2 linked regions of the Homo sapiens genome follow. The protein of the gene in region 2 purifies or fractionates together with the protein of the main gene of each other region. This does not show direct contact. Each region holds a gene or a part of one and is shown on either strand. Other genes may lie near its edges.

Region 1 (3,395 bases), on a different chromosome or scaffold from region 2:
TTGGCTGTGTGACCTTTTACCCCTGTGGGCCCGCACCCGTTCCCGCCATAAAACAGTGCTTCTGAGAAGCACACTTCAGATTCCCACTCGCCCTCTCCCACCCTCCAATTCACCCAAACGTTAGGCTGCTGGGTGAGTGCGCCCGGCTGCTGGGCTGTGGGGTGCCCTGTGTTGCAGGGGAGGTGCGCCCTGTGGGGAGGTGGGGGAGGTGTGCTGTCTTGTGAGATGCATGGTGGGGTGAGGTGCGCTGTGTAGGGAGGTGGGGGGAGGTGCGCTGTATAGGGAGTGGGGGAAGTGCTATGTAGGGAGGTGGGGGAGTGTGCTGTGTAGGGAGGTGGGGGGAGTGCGATGTGTAGGGTGGTGGGGGGAGTGCACTGTGTAGCGTGGTTAGGGGAGGTGCGCTTTGTAGGATGGTAGGGGGAGAGTGTGCTGTGTAGCGTGGTGGGAGGAGGTGCGCCATGTGCGCCGTGTAGGGAGGTGGGGGGAGTGCTCTGTGTAGGGTCGTGGGGGGAGTGTGCTCTGTAGAGTGGTGGGGGAGTGTGCTGTGTAGGGAGGTGGGGGAGGGGAGGTGCACTGTGTAGGGAGGTGGGGGGAAATGCTTAGTGTAGGGTGGTGGGGGGAGTGCGCTGTTGTGAAGTGAGGCACACTGTGCCGTGTGCCATGAGTTAGGAAAGGAGGAGGAAGGCAGAAAGGCAGCTCTGTGCAGAGGTGGGCAGTGGTGTTGGCTGGACCTGGGCTGGAATTCTGGGGGTCACTAGTTAGGTTTCTGTCTCCAGCTAAGCTGCAGACCTCTATTTTCTCCTCTGTGCAATGGGAATAACAACAGTGTTTCTCATAGGGCTGTCTTTAGGATTAACGGAATAATCCGTTGTTGAGCTTATTAGCACTGTGCCTGGTACACAGCAGCCATCTAATCTGCTGGGCCCTCCCTGATGAGGGTGGGGGTCAAGGGAAGGAAAGGGCTTTGAACTCAAGGAAAATAGCCACCTTTTTCCTCTCCTCACAGGGAACCCAGTTTGGCCAGTGGGATACTGCTGGTTTTGAGAACGAGGACCAAAAACTGAAATTTCTCAGACTTATGGGTGGCTTCAAAAACCTGTCCCCTTCGTTCAGCCGCCCCGCCAGCACGATTGCAAGGCCCAACATGGCCCTCGGCAAGAAGGCGGCTGACAGCCTGCAGCAGAATCTGCAGCGGGACTACGACCGGGCCATGAGCTGGAAGTACAGCCGGGGAGCCGGCCTCGGCTTCTCCACCGCCCCCAACAAGATCTTTTACATTGACAGGAACGCTTCCAAGTCAGTCAAGCTGGAAGATTAAACTCTAGAGTTTTGTCCCCCCAAAACTGCCACAATTGCTTTGATTATTCCATTTATGCTGGAGATTACAAATTTTTTTTGTGAAAAAATCAGATCTTGGTGAGGACCTCGAGCAGTAAGATATAAATAACTCCCATAAGCTTAGCGTTCCAGTAATGGAACACTAGGCATAAATGGTTTATTCAGTTGTGCAAATGAAAGCCATCTGACAGTTGGCTCACATTGAACACCTGTGGAGATTAAGGACGAGGACAACTATATTGATGGGCTTGGATGAACTGGGGCAGGGCAGCTCATATTTCGGGAGCCAGGAGAACGAGTGAGTGCTAAAACCTCCTGTTTTCTGTGTTAAACATTCCGTCCCTGTTTGAGACATCAGTATGTACAGTTAACTTTTGTTGAGTGTTTAGCAGGTACTAGGGACATACTAGTGTTTTCCTTAATGTATTTAATCTTCATAATTATGAAATGGGTGCTATTATTAGCCCCATCTTATAGATGAGGCAACTGAGGTTCAGGGATAAAGTAATAAAATTGCCTGGGGTCACCCAGCCACTAAGTGCAGGGTGTTGTACTTTTGTACCCGAAGCCCTAAGTTCACTATTCGCCACTCTGAATGTCCCCTTTAGGGAATTTCCACCAGAATCCTCGTTGGGGATTGAAATGTCTTTAGATGGAGGAAAAAGTTTTATGACAAGTCTGCATCTCTGATAAAAAGTGGAGTGAATGAGGAACGGAGAATCGCAAACTCCTTTTCCTTCCTTTTCCTTTCCCCTGTCATAGAGCAGCTGTAGGCAGAGAGGTGTCTGAGTTGTTACCAAACACATGTGACTGAGCTGCTGCTGCTGGGAAATGTGCCTCTAAACCAGTCCTGCCTTTTCCACTGGTGTCCCTTCGGCCCTAAGTGCTGAGGTAGGATTTTTGTGCTTTGACTGGATTCTGAACAAGGCATTTTAGGAAGAGTGGTTAGTCCCGCAAATGAATCAATGGCAGATCCCAGGGACGTGTGTGTGTGTTTTGAGATAGGCTCTCACTCTGTCACCCAGGCTGGAGTGTAGTGGCATATCACGGCTTGTTGCAACCACTACCTATCCAGCTTAAGTGATCCTCCCACCTCAGCCTCCCAAGTAGCTGGGACTGTGGGTGTGCACCACAACAACCAGCTAGTGTTTAAAATTTTTTGTAGAGATGGGGTCTCACTATATTGTCCAGGCTAGTCCCAAACTCCTGGACTCAACTCATGCTCCTGCCTCAGCCCCCAAGAGCTGGGATCACAGGTGTGAGCCACTGTGCCCAGCCCCAGGGATGTGTCTGATGAGATTCTTTTTTATCACAAGGAAGAGAATCCCAGGTGACTTCTGTAGGTGGATATTGAATGCCAGGAGGAGATGAACGTGTGGAGATGACACGGGAAGTTGCCTCATCGGCTGTGGGGACAGCGTTTCCAAGCCTGGACTCTACAGCAAGCCTCAAAGAGCTCCAGGTCCAGTGGCCCAAGTCGCATGTGACCATCTGTGACCACCTTCTTTCCACTCACCTAGCTTTTTGCATCCCAAAATACAGGTTCTGACTGGGACATTTTCACGATCGTTTGGCCTGAACATGCCTCCTACAGACATCCCAGCCCAGGCAGGCCTCGATGGCCAGAAAGTTCAGTCTCACGTGGCAGGAAGGCCTGATTAGGGCCTGGTTCAACAGCTCGCCAAGGAAGCATTCTCTCCATCATCTCCAGTGTTGGCTTCATCAAGGCTAGTACAAAGATGGCAGTAACAGTTCCAGGCAGCATATCAAGACCCTAGAACATTCCAGAGGAAGAAAAGCCTTTTTGTGTCTCAAGGAAACTTCCAGAAGCCTCCATTGCTGGGCAATGAGTCATCTGCCCATAGCTGCACCCGCCCCTGTCATGGGAAGGCTGGTGATTCCCTTCAGTCAAGAAGAGTGGATGCTGGTGAAGTGGCCATGGTGTCCACAGCTGCCCATTGGGCAGAGGTGAGGCAGGCACTTCAGGCAGTTTCCCTGGCTCTGAACCCTGATCCGCAAGCATTGGCCAGGTCAATAGTTGGACAAGTATGTGCTAC
Region 2 (3,500 bases):
AAACTATATGAGGATACCATTTATTTGGTAAGAAGACCCGTGGAGTTAAAAAATAAATGGCTATGGAGCAAATCAGCCTTTCCTAGGGTTGAGGTAAAAGTTGATTTGTTCCAGCCACCCATACCATAAAACTCCTGATTTTCCTGTTTACTTCTTCCCAGCTTTATGTCTTTACTCTTCTTTGTTCAGCACCGAATCGTTCTCTCTCTTTTCTTCTCACTCATCCATCCCTGCTTTGTCTCTCTTAACTAACCATCTTACACAATTGCAATTATTTGTCATGTTCATATACGTTTTAAAAGCACATAGATTGAAAGTGTTGTCTTTCAAGCTTTAGGGTGTTTTTCGGGGGATGCATTTTTAAGTCCGCTTTTTTATATGTGATTGGTTCTTTACTCATTATAGAAAAGTGTTAACACTCATCAATAAAATACTAGAAACTTTCTCTAAAGACATTCAGGGTGGGCCTATGATAGGGATATTTTGGTTCAAATCCAATTTATTTGCTTTTATTAATTGTGCCATTACTTCATTGATGAGATTGTGTTTTGGCTACATATTTGAGGGGAGGAAATAAATATAAAAAGGTTAAATTGCTTTTTGGCACTTTAAATTGTTCCCCTGAATATTTACTAAGATGGGTAACGTAGATGGTGATCACAAGAATATGAAATAGGCTGGCTGCAGTGGCTCATGCTTGTAATCCCAGCACTGTGGGAGGCCGAGGTAGGCCGATCACCTGAGGTCAGGCCTTTGAGACCAGCCTGGCCAACATGGCAAAACCCTATCTGTACTAAAAATACAAAACTTAGCAGGGCATGGTGGTGCATGCCTGTAATCCCAGCTACTTGAGAGGCTGAAGGAGGGGAATTGCTTGAACCCAGAAGGCAGAGGTTGCAGTGAGCTGAGATCACACCACTGCACTCCAGCCTGCGTGACAGAGTGTGACTCCATCTCAAAAAAAAAAAAAAAAACATGAGACAGAATAAGATACACCCTGAATTAATATATAGTTTCAGTTGTGAAGTTTCATGTATTTAGAAGTCTGTGTACTTGGAACGTTGTAAAACTCTCTAAAGTACAGTCTGATTTTATAGGTTCTGAGTGCAAAAGTAGTTACAAATGCTCGAAGTCCTGGGGCAAAATGCTATGGCATTGTAACTATGTCTTCAAGCACAGAGGTGTCCAGGTGTATTGCACATCTTCATCGCACTGAGCTGCATGGACAGCTGATTTCTGTTGAAAAAGTAAGCTTCCCTAACTGTTTATCAAAGCAAGTCTAATTTGATGGCTAGTTCTCAACTCATAGCTGTTAACAGTAGCAGGGAGTAGAATTTGCAGTGATTTTTAATTTTTATGTATTTGTAGTTTTTACTCTCCTTATATTTTTCCTATCGTTTCCAAATTTTCTGCCATTAGCACACTTCTTATAATCACAAAAATGTAACCATATGTACAAATTGTTTTTCTGGTTCGAACCTTTCAGGTAAAAGGTGATCCCTCTAAGAAAGAAATGAAGAAAGAAAATGATGAAAAGAGTAGTTCAAGAAGTTCTGGAGATAAAAAAAATACGAGTGATAGAAGTAGCAAGTAAGGATTTATTTTTATTTATTTATTTTGATAAGCAGATAGACTTTTTTGGTACATTATGAAGTACTCATTCTGTTTTTTTGTCTGGGGCGGTATGGTCAGGACACAAGCCTCTGTCAAAAAAGAAGAGAAAAGATCGTCTGAGAAATCTGAAAAAAAAGAAAGCAAGGATACTAAGAAAATAGAAGGTAAAGATGAGAAGAATGATAATGGAGCAAGTGGCCAAACATCAGAATCGATTAAAAAAAGTGAAGAAAAGAAGCGAATAAGTATGCTATACATCTTTTCAATCCCTTTCTAATGCATTCTACTACTTAATTTTTACAGTGGAAGGGAAAACCTGAAATTCTAATCCAGATATAAGCTTTGTTGTTAGGTGTCATTGTGGTAGGAAAGGAGGTCTAGTAGGAGTAATTGTCTTCTTTTCTACTCTGGGGAAACAAACAAATGTATTCTTCCAGCTAAGCTCCTTTGCTATTCTGGGCTGACTTAAAATGGTCATTGATTAGTACTATTGAATTAGGATCTTTTGGTATCACTGAAAGTATTTATGTTAGCAGACTGAACTGTTTAAAAAACTCTTTGCATTGAAGTTCTTGTAGAATAAGTAGTTTTTTTATTTCATGTATTGGTGTGTGACTATCAGAATTTAGCATTTTTACATACATATTTTCTTTCTCAATGAAAAATTTTAGACATTGTTTTATATAATTTTTTTCCCTTAGGTTCCAAGAGTCCAGGACATATGGTAATACTAGACCAAACTAAAGGAGATCATTGTAGACCATCAAGAAGAGGAAGATATGAGAAAGTAAGTCTCTGATCAGGATGGTTGTATACTACTTCAGCTGTTTACAAAAGAAGATAATTCTGTTTTTCCATAACCATCTTTGCGTACTTGCATGCTAGCAAACCCAAGAAAAAGGAAATGTTACTAGTCATTTGAACTTTTTAAATGACCTACTAAACTTGAAAAATAAAGCCCCAAAATATTTTAATTTCTAGTGTTCTTCTAATTTTTTTCTACAGATTCATGGAAGAAGTAAGGAAAAGGAGAGAGCTAGTCTAGATAAAAAAAGAGATAAAGACTACAGAAGGAAAGAGATCTTGCCTTTTGAAAAGATGAAGGAACAAAGGTTGAGAGAACATTTAGTTCGTTTTGAAAGGCTGCGACGAGCAATGGAACTTCGAAGGTAGGAAGAGAGTCTGTTTTATACCTGTCTTTAAATATAGGTAAATATTTAACACTAGTTGTAAGCCATATTTCTGGAAATTGTATTCCCACAGAAAACTGTTTGCCACCTTAAAGAAGTTACGGTAGCATCTAATGATTTCTTAAGTTTGCATAGCACTTTACAATTTACAAAGTGCTTTTCCATCTGTTGTCTCCAACTCAACAGTTCTGTAAGGCTAGTTATGCCCATTATACAATTGAAAAAAATGGAGGCCCAGAGAGGCTAAATGACTCTTCCAATGGCCACATGGCTAACAAGTGGCAGAGTCGGGACTCAGACCCAAGTCTTCTGACTCCAAGTCCAATGCTCTTTCCTCAACACCAAAGCTGCTGCCATAAAAAACATGACTTCAAAGGAAAAATTTGAGATAAGATAGTTTCAAAGTAGCTACAGTGTTCAAATACTGTAATCTGAAATTTTAACAAATTTAGCAAAAATTTATTGTTTGCATTAGTGCCTAAGAGAAGGAAGATTTGCCCTGTGAGCCTAATGGTATTCGGATTATATCCCAAAGCAAGCATTCTCTTTAAAACAAACGGAAAATATAAACAAAGCAAGATGTTTCCATTTTTAGTGGCCATATCTCAACAGTTCACGAGTGTCAGTTTACTTTTGTATATCAATTTTTGGATGCCACTTAAAATAGTCTTGTGGGTGTGTTTTATAGTATATTAT

Evidence for each region. The genes of interacting proteins can lie anywhere in the genome.
Region 1: the proteins of SLTM (region 2) and KNOP1 purify together in Homo sapiens (affinity purification with mass spectrometry, with the first as the bait; one large-scale study listed by BioGRID). This does not show direct contact.

Annotation. Positions count from the first base shown.
Region 1 is NC_000016.10:19,704,833-19,708,227, reverse strand, and holds part of KNOP1 (lysine-rich nucleolar protein 1), read left to right. Parts: intron 1-1,006; coding exon 1,007-1,318; 3' UTR 1,319-3,395.
Region 2 is NC_000015.10:58,892,180-58,895,679, reverse strand, and holds part of SLTM (SAFB-like transcription modulator), read left to right. Parts: intron 1-1,097; coding exon 1,098-1,247; intron 1,248-1,486; coding exon 1,487-1,590; intron 1,591-1,692; coding exon 1,693-1,859; intron 1,860-2,315; coding exon 2,316-2,401; intron 2,402-2,619; coding exon 2,620-2,783; intron 2,784-3,500. UniProt on the Homo sapiens protein: When overexpressed, acts as a general inhibitor of transcription that eventually leads to apoptosis.